Linked DNA regions of Homo sapiens: all the other regions are linked to region 1. The links come from fine-mapping of genetic effects on gene expression. A gene starts in region 1. Each other region holds a variant in brackets. All regions are shown on one strand. Distances are between the middles of the regions. Region 1 holds the start of ANO1 (anoctamin 1). Region 2 overlaps ANO1 (anoctamin 1). Region 3 has its middle 99 kb from the start of FGF3.

Evidence for each region.
Region 2: its variant is fine-mapped to the expression of ANO1 in thyroid (GTEx, PIP above 0.99).
Region 3: its variant is fine-mapped to the expression of ANO1 in tibial artery (GTEx, PIP above 0.99).

Annotation. Positions count from the first base shown.
Region 1 is chr11:70,077,049-70,079,799 of GRCh38, reverse strand. ANO1 (anoctamin 1) reads right to left here and starts at 1,483. Exons shown (of 26, transcript NM_018043.7): 1 at 1,086-1,483. The coding sequence starts at 1,193.
Region 2 is chr11:70,105,117-70,107,867 of GRCh38, reverse strand. ANO1 (anoctamin 1) reads right to left here. Exons shown (of 26, transcript NM_018043.7): 5 at 2,080-2,134. Among named protein-coding and RNA genes, the nearest start is that of ANO1, 28 kb to the right of the region's middle. The variant C/T (reference allele first, on the strand shown) is at 1,412.
Region 3 is chr11:69,916,710-69,919,460 of GRCh38, reverse strand. No RefSeq gene overlaps it. Among named protein-coding and RNA genes, the nearest start is that of FGF3, 99 kb to the right of the region's middle. The variant G/A (reference allele first, on the strand shown) is at 1,077.

The DNA of each region.
Region 1 (2,751 bases):
GCTTTGCTCCCGCTTCATTCCCTGCCTCTCTGTGAGCTCCAGAGACTAGAGGGACAGGCCAGGGCCATCCTCATCCTGCTTGAAGCAGCCCTGCTGGGCCTGACGCCTGGGGAGGGGCTTTGATGGGGTCTGCATGGGAAGAAGGTAGAAGGGAGCTTCTGTCCTTAGGTCCCACAAATTGCTGCTGAGAGCTTCCCTCACCCCAAGAGGAGATAGCCAGTCCCAGCCCTGTCCTATCCTCTTCCGGCAAACTTTGTCCTTCAAGCCAAACCCTTCCTGGGAGAATTCTGCCCCCCTCTCTAAAACATAGGGTTACCTAGACCTCTGGGTCTGGCCCTGGGGAGGGTGGTGGGGATATTGGGGACCTCAGGATGGGGTCCCCAACTTACATGACTGGCTTCCAACCAGTGCCCCCACCTGAACCAGGCCTGGGCGCCCAGGGGAGACAGGGGCGAGGGTAGAAAGCAATCTCCAATGATTGACACCCTGGGCTTTGAGAGTTTCGGTGCCAATGCCAGGGTACCAGGCCCAGTGCCCTGGGCACAATATGCGTTTCTGGCAAGTGAGGACTCGGGACTCTGGCCCCAGAGGATAGTGAAGCAGTGGGGCCTGGCAGTTACCATCATCGTGGAGTGGCGACCAACTTGGCCTTCACCCAAGACCCCCACCATCACCCTCACCCTGGCTGCCCCAACAGGTACCCCTGGCCGCGAGCCAGGAAGGGAAGGTCCCATCCAGGGCGCCAGCCGTGAGCTCTTGGTTGGGCTCCGAGCTGCAGCCCCGGGTGAGGCGGCTTCGGGGCCGCAGAGCTCCGAGGCCGGGCCATGCCTGGGGGCCCGGCGCTGCGCTGGGCGGAGTGGGCGCCGCGCTCGGAACGCTCAGAGCGCAGGCGGGGCGCACGCACTTGGCCAGGGCCGGCGCGCCCTTCCCGGCACGCACGTGCGCGGGTGGGCGCCGCGAACCCTGCGCGGAGGGTGCGGCCCCCGCCCTGGGGTCCCAGGAGGCCCTGCCGCCGCCCGGTTCCCGCCCTCGCCAAGGCGCAGGTGCGCGGCCCTCCCGCCCGGGTCGCGGCCGCCCGCACTCACCGTGCCCTCGGACGGCAGGTAGCCGATGTCCTCGATGGCGCAGATGTTGATGATGTGGACGCTGCGGTCCTCGGCCGGGAGCGTCGAGTACTTCTCGTTGACCCTCATCGTGGCCGCCTGTGCGCTGGGACCGCCGGGCGGCGCGCCCTCCCCATCCACGGCCCCGGCGGCCTCTGCGGGCGGAGACCGCAGCGTTCGCGGCGCGCTCGCAGGGGGCCGGGCCTCCCCGCGCCCAGGCCCGCCGGGGACGTGGCCGCCTCCCGCTCCGCCCGCCGCCCTGGCCCGCCCGGCCCGCGCGCTCGATGCGGGGGGCGCCTGAGCCTCTCGGGGCCGATCGCGCCGCCACCCGGCTGCTGGTCCCGCGGGCCGGCCCGCGCCTGGTCAGGAACTTGGACGCCAGCCGGCCCGCCTTTGCCTTAAAGATATAAGCGCTCTCCGCCCGCCTATGGCAGGGGCGGTGGCCGCGCCGGTCAGATTTTCCGTAGAAATTTAAACACAGGAAGAAAAAGTATTCCATTCCTGCGGGCCCCTCCAAGTTTTATTTTTATCCAGGGAAAGTGCCCCTTTGGATTTTTGAGGGTTTTCATACCGGGTGTGAAAGGGGGGAACTTTCAATAGCCCCACCTGAAATAAAGTCCCCGAGTGGCAGGCGCTTCTGTGGCGCGTCACCTCCGCCTCCGGGGGGAGTGAAGCTTCTGAGATTGGAGTCTGGATCTCTGCCCCTTTCCCTCCACCCTGGCAAACTCCTGCTGTCACTCAGCACTCACCTCCTCCGGGGAGCTTGCCTGGTTCCTGCCGACCCGCCCCCTCCAGCTGCCCGCGCTCCTGGGGGAGTCTCTCCCGGGGCAGTCATCTCCCTGGAGCCCACTGATGTTACCGGTGCCCCCGAGTTTACGGAGTGCTTAGTGTTCTGTGCCCAGGTGCGTGCAGCGTCCCTGATGTAGGGCGTGAGTGTGTATCATCTCATTTAACCCCGCACCTGCAAGGTTGGAATGCGGGTCCTCATTTTGCAGAGGACACTCAGGCTTAGGAGGGCCAAGGACCAGTCCGCATCCTCTGAGGTGGGGCGGGGCTCCTGCAGAGCTTTCCCCACTGCTGGGCAAGGCTGTCCTGCTTTCTGGAGGGGCGGAGCGGGGGGGATGGTGGCTTTGATCTCTCTTACCCCCGGACCTAGCAGGGGTCTGGCACACTGCAGATCTTCAAGTCTTCTTCCCCTAAGGAGAATAAGGCAGGTCCCCAGGGGACGACCATACTCAGGTTAAGCCCCAGGGGCCATGCTGGCCACCACATCCAGTGGAAATAAAGTGTCCCTCTGCCTCTCACATCCTATGAGTTCTTCACGGTGTGCATCAGATAGCACCTCCTGCAGGAAGTCCTGCTGGATTCTCCCCTACTGTCCCCTTCCCACCCAAATATGCAGGCCTTCCTGTCTATCCAAAGAACCTGCCTGAACCCCAACTAGCACTTCATTTATTCCGTCTCATTTTACAGTGGGTTGTCTACCAGGTTCACACAGCCGATGCTCAATAATTGCTTGTTAAATGGCCACTGGGGAACATTCAAGGCCTACAGAAGTGATTAGAAAATTGTCTTTAAAGGCCACGATGTCGTCAGCGTGCCATGGTTCCAAGCATGGAACCTGGAGTCAGCTAGGATAGGGTTGGAG
Region 2 (2,751 bases), 28 kb before region 1:
GTGGCAGGAGGCGGCCATCATCGGGCTCTGGGTTCCTGGTGCCTGGGCAGAGCCCTGCTGAAGGGATTCCCCCCCGGCTGCCTGCCCCTTGACTAGTGACGTGTTTTGTTTGGTGGCCTCAGCAGCTCCGGCTTGGGAGTCTGTCTGCCTGGAACCTGGCGCCAGCTCTGCCATTTGCAGCTGTGTGATTTTGGACCAGCGACATCACCACTCCCGGCCTCAGTTTTTCCATCTGTAAACTGGGGTGAGAAGAACTGGTCGTGCTATGCAGACGTGCATTTCAGAGCATGCCAATTCTGCCTCCACTCTCTCAGGCAAGGCCAGCGTCCTTCCAGTTCCCCCTGGCCCAGGCCATCTGACCGCTTCCCCGCCCCGCCGCCTCCACTGGACCCACCTGTCCCAACAACCCCGCCCCCTGGCTGCCTCTCTCACTTTCCAAACTCACTCCTGCAGCCACAGGGCCTCCGCCCTGGCTGTTCCTTTTCCCAGAAGCACTTGTCCCCTTCAGATTGGAATAGGTCCAGGGTCCCCTTAACAACCAGGCCTTGAGGCCACCACCCTCCCGGTGGCTCTGTCTTCTAGCTCAGCTTGCCTCTCCCCACCTGCCGGATTATAAATGTCCTCAGTGCCTCTTTTCTCCCACCCAGCAGGTGCCCAATACATCCCTGCTGAATGAAGGAAGGAATCGCCCACTAGGCTGTTCTCAATGGCTCCCTCCCCATCATCCCTCAGATCTAATCGGTTCTGACCTTGCTGATTCTCCTGTAACCACCTCCTCCCTTCCACATGCAGTTATGGCCCATGTTTATGACCACTGCCACCAGCCCTCATCCACCAGTCATTTACCCTCCCACAGCTGGCCACTGGCAGTGATCCTTCTGGAACGGATCTCACCACATCCTCAACCTAGCTCCACAACCTTCTATGGCTCCCCAGCGCCCACAGGCCAAAGGTCTAAAATCCAAGACCAGCACAGTGGGCCTCTCCCTATCGAGTACTGCTGTTCTCTGACTCCTATCCACTTGCACACTGGACCACCCCAATGCCAGGACAGATTGAATGGTGTGGAGGAGAGGAGTGGGGAAGGGCTGTCAGTTCTCCACGGCTTTGCCTAGAACCTCAGCCAACCCTGCAGGCTGTTGGATTTTGATGACTATTAGGCCTGACTAACCAAGGCCAAAGCTATGAATTATCAGTTTCTTTGGAGCATGTTGGCCATTTAGAAACTGGCCTCCAGGGTCTCTGGGAGAGAGATGCCCTCCTCCCTGCCCCAGATCTGTCTGTCCCAGCAGTGGCTCAGAACCCCCCGTGCTGGTACGACCTGCACCGACCTCCTGCTGGCTGCCTGCCAGTCTCAGGTGGTGGTCATGAGGAGTAGTTGTCTGGACAAGGTCACCCTGACTGTCTCCTC[C/T]CAGCCCTCTGTCTCTGCCCGGCCAGGCTGGGCTTTCTGGGCAGGGAATAGAGAATAACAGCGAAAGTTTGGCTGCCAGGTTAATTTCTTGTTTAGATAGAAGTTGGGTCCTGAGCCATGCACAGCCCCAGCTTGGCTGGTGGACAGGTTGGATAAACATGAAGCCAGTGCCTTGAATAGGGCAGGGTGGCCTGGTCAGATTTCAAACCTCAGTTGGCTCCTCTGGCAAAGGCCTGGAAAGAGATCTCAACCCACGCGCCTTTGCCTCCACCAACCCTCCCTCCTGCCCACACCTGCCTGCCCTGAAAGCCCCGAATCGTGGCCTGATGGTCAGGCACGCACAATCCCACCACGAGGCGGCTCTGAGACATGTGCTGGGAGCTGCACAGATCCAGAAACACCGACCTTTGAAATCACTCCAGGGGTCTGGCTTCCCTCCTGCTTTCCCAAGCTCTGTGCTGATTCCCTTCCTCTCAGCTGCCCCTGCCTGGGGCACGACCATCCCCTGGGCCCCTCGTTGCCCTCTCCCTTTCATTATTCTAATTATTTCTGTCACAGACAATTAGAGCCGGCTTCCACCGGGAGGAGTTTCACCAAAATGAAATTATCATCTGGATCCCCAGGGCCATCTTGCCAGTGAGCCGTTTCCAGGCGCGTGCGATACTTACAATCGTGCTCCGGGTTTTGCTGTCGAAAAAGGAATCCTTATCAGACAAGTCAAATCTGTGGAAATATCGGGAAGGAAACAAGACACAGTTCACCAGAGCTGGCAGTTCTCTGGGTTTCAAGGCCCTGGGAAACCACACTGTCCCCATTAGCCGTGACCGTGAAATGGACAGAACTCTGTCCGCACGCCAGGTATGACCCGTCCGCCCCTGGGCATTTGGAACAGACTGTTTCACTGCCCCCGCACCTGGGCGAGGCCTGAGACCCACATAGGTGGGAAGTGACCTAGGAGGCGAGTACGGTCAGACCACCCTCCAGCCCCCCACCCCCCACAGCCCCCCAGAAGATCCCTGCTTCCTTTTGATGACATCCTCAGTGGGCAGTTTTGAAAGTCTCTGTTTCAACAAGGCGGGGGACAGGGGCAGTATCACCGCCACCATCAGACAGCTCCAACCTTGAAAACAATCTCCCTGTATTTCCAATGGTTTGGGTCCTGATGGGCTGCATAGGGATGGCCCGAGGCTTCCTGAGGGTGGAGGGGCATCTTGGGAACACACTCCCTGCTCTCCCTGCTCTCCAAGGCACTTCGGGGAGAGCTGGGGAGGGCGGCTGGGCCAGTTTCCACCTCCACGGAGCCTGGAGGTGAGCTTAGCCCTGTCCAGGCAGCAGGGCTG
Region 3 (2,751 bases), 160 kb after region 1:
AGGTGGTGGCACCTCTGGGTCCCTCTCTGCGGGGAGGAAGCATGGGAACCGGGGGGTGGGAGCCGGCCCAGGAGGCCAAGATAGAGTGGCAGGGGAGGAGGGATGCCAAGATGGCCAGCCAGGGAAGAGGGGCGTGAAAGGAGGTGGGCACAGACTCGAGGCCACTGCTCGCTCCAGGGGCTCACAGGAGTTCGCGGTGGGGCCACTCAGATGTCCTTGGCCTGACCCAGGCTGAGAGGTCCGTCCCTCAGGGCCAGGGTTTCGTGACGCCGAGTTAATCCCAGGAGCCCACTCTTCCTTAGGTTTGTAAGAACAAGGAAGTGGGGCCTGGGAGGGCCAGGCAGGCTTTCTCGGCACCCCGTTCCCCATGAACCCGGAGCTCTGTCCTTTGGGGAGCAGCCCCCGCGGGACTCCCAGGAAGGCTCGGCCGGGAGAGGCGATGCTGCCCCCTGGCGGCGGGCCTGGCCCTGTCCCGCTTAGTGGAGTGACTGCCGCGTCTCTCACATTTTCTGTTGCGCAACTTTGCAGCAAGACCCCGGCGAGCTGAAATAGACGGTGCATTATATGCGAAGCCTTCCGGGCGCGAGCTGCCTGATCCCCCGGCCTCGCCTGAGGAGGCTTCTCCATGTGCAGGGGACATTGCTACATTTCATCCCCCACTCCCTCTAAGGCAGGGGCCGTCCGGACGTTTAGAGTGAGGACCCCGTTTCTCAGACTGGTCCTGGTCGCTCTGCCCGTGGATGCCAGAATCCAGATGTGAACCCCAATCTCTCCGCCTGACCCTACAGCCCAACTCTTCACATTGTATCGAGGGCGACAGAGGCTTCCAGGGGGAAAGGCCGTGTCAAACGCCCAGCACCGCAGGGTCACCCTGCCCCTAAGGCACAGTCCCTGGTGGTCCAAGGCCCTGGGGCATCCGGAGCCCGGGCAGACGTCCTCACGGGGTGGGGGTGGGGCGTGCTGAGGGCACCCAGGAAAGGGCCTGGCGTCTGGGACGTCTGGGCTGAGTCTTGGCTCTCCGCTGGGTGGCTGTGTTCCTCTGGCCGAGCGCCGTGGCCTTGCTGAGGCTCTGGGCC[G/A]GAGAGCTAAATGCCACGGCCTACCTGGCACCAAGGCTGGCTAGACGCTCCCGCGAGGGTCAGGCTCCTGCTGCAGCCAGTGCTCCCTGCTACAACAAATCCCAGGGGCACCCACTGTGTACCAGGTCGGTGGTCAACCAAATAATGGAACCCCCCACCAGTAATGGAATCCCCCACATCTTAGTGCCCAGGACCTATGAACATGTTCCCTTCCGTGGCCAAAGACATTCTACCGATGTCACGGAGCAAGGATTCTGAGGTGGAGATGATCCCAGACGGTCGTGGGTAACCTCCAGCTTCCTGTAAGAGGGAGGCAGGAGGGAGTCACAGAAAAGATGTGACAAGAAGAAGCGGGGGGGGGGGGGAGAAAGAGAGGAATAGAGGAGAGAGGGAGAGAGAGAGAAGAGAAGGGGGAGAGAGGGAGAGAGAGGGATAGAGGAGAGAGGGAGAGAGAGGGATAGAGGAGAGAGGGAGAGAGAGGGATAGAGGAGAGAGGGAGAGAGAGAAGAGAGGGGGAAGAGAGAGAGGGAGAGAGAGAGGAGAGAGGGAGAGAGAGAGGAGAGAGGGAGAGAGAGAGAGGGAGAGAGAGAAAGAGGAGAGAGGGAGAAAGAGAAAACAGAGAGAGGGAGATAGAGAAGAGAGGCAGAGAAGAGAGAGAGGGAGAGAGAGAAGAGAGGAGAGAGAGGGAGAGAGTGAGAGGAGAGAGGGAGAGGAGAGAGGGAGAGAGAGAAGAGAGGGAGAGACGGGGGAGAGAGAGAGGGAAACGGAGAGAGAGAGGAGAGAGGGAGAGAGAAGAGAAGAGAGAAGGGGAGGGGGCCAGAGAGGGAGAGAGAGAGGAGAGAGGGAGAGAGAGAGAGAGGAGAGAGGGAGAGAGAGGGAGAGGAGAGAGGGAGAGAGAGAGAAATAGAGAGGAGAAAGGGAGAGAGAGGAGGGAGAAGAGAGTGGGAGAGAGAAGAGAAGAGAGAGAAAGAGAGGAGGGGAGAGGGGGAGAGAGAGAGAAGCGGGGGAGAAGAGAAGAGAGGGAGAGAGAGAGAGGGAGGGGAGAGGGAGAGAGAGAGAAGAGAGGGAGAGAGAGAGGGAGAGGAGAAAGAGGAGAGGGAGGGAGAGAGGGAGAGGAGAGAGAGAGGAGAGAGGGAGAGGAGAGAGAGAGAAGAGAGGGAGAGAGAAAAAGAGAGAGGGAGAGAGTGAAGAGAGAGGGAGAGAGGCAGGGCGGAGCAGGGCAGGGCCAGGGCATGGCTCAGGAGAGAGAGGGAGAGGAGAGAAGGAGAGAGAGAGAGAGAGGGAGGGGAGAGAGGGAGAGATAGAAGAGAGGGAGAGAGGGAGAGGGAGAGAGAGGAAAATCTTCCCAGGAGGGGCAGTGCTGCTGACTTTGAAGATGGAGGAAGGGGCCACAAGCCAAGGAGCACAAGCTGCCTCTGGAAGCTGGAAAAGACAAGGCTTGGGTTCTCCTAGACTCTCCAGGAGAAATGTAGCCCTGCAGACACCTTGATTCTAGACTAGTGGCATTCCTTTTTTCTTCTTTTTTTTCTTTTTCTTTTTTTGAGACAGAGTCTTGCTCTGTCACCAGGGCTGGGGTGCTGTGGTGTAATCTCAGCTCACTGCAATCTCTGCCTACCAGGTTCAAGTGATTCTCCTGCCTCAGCCTCCTGAGCAGCTGGGATTACAGGTGCCAGCC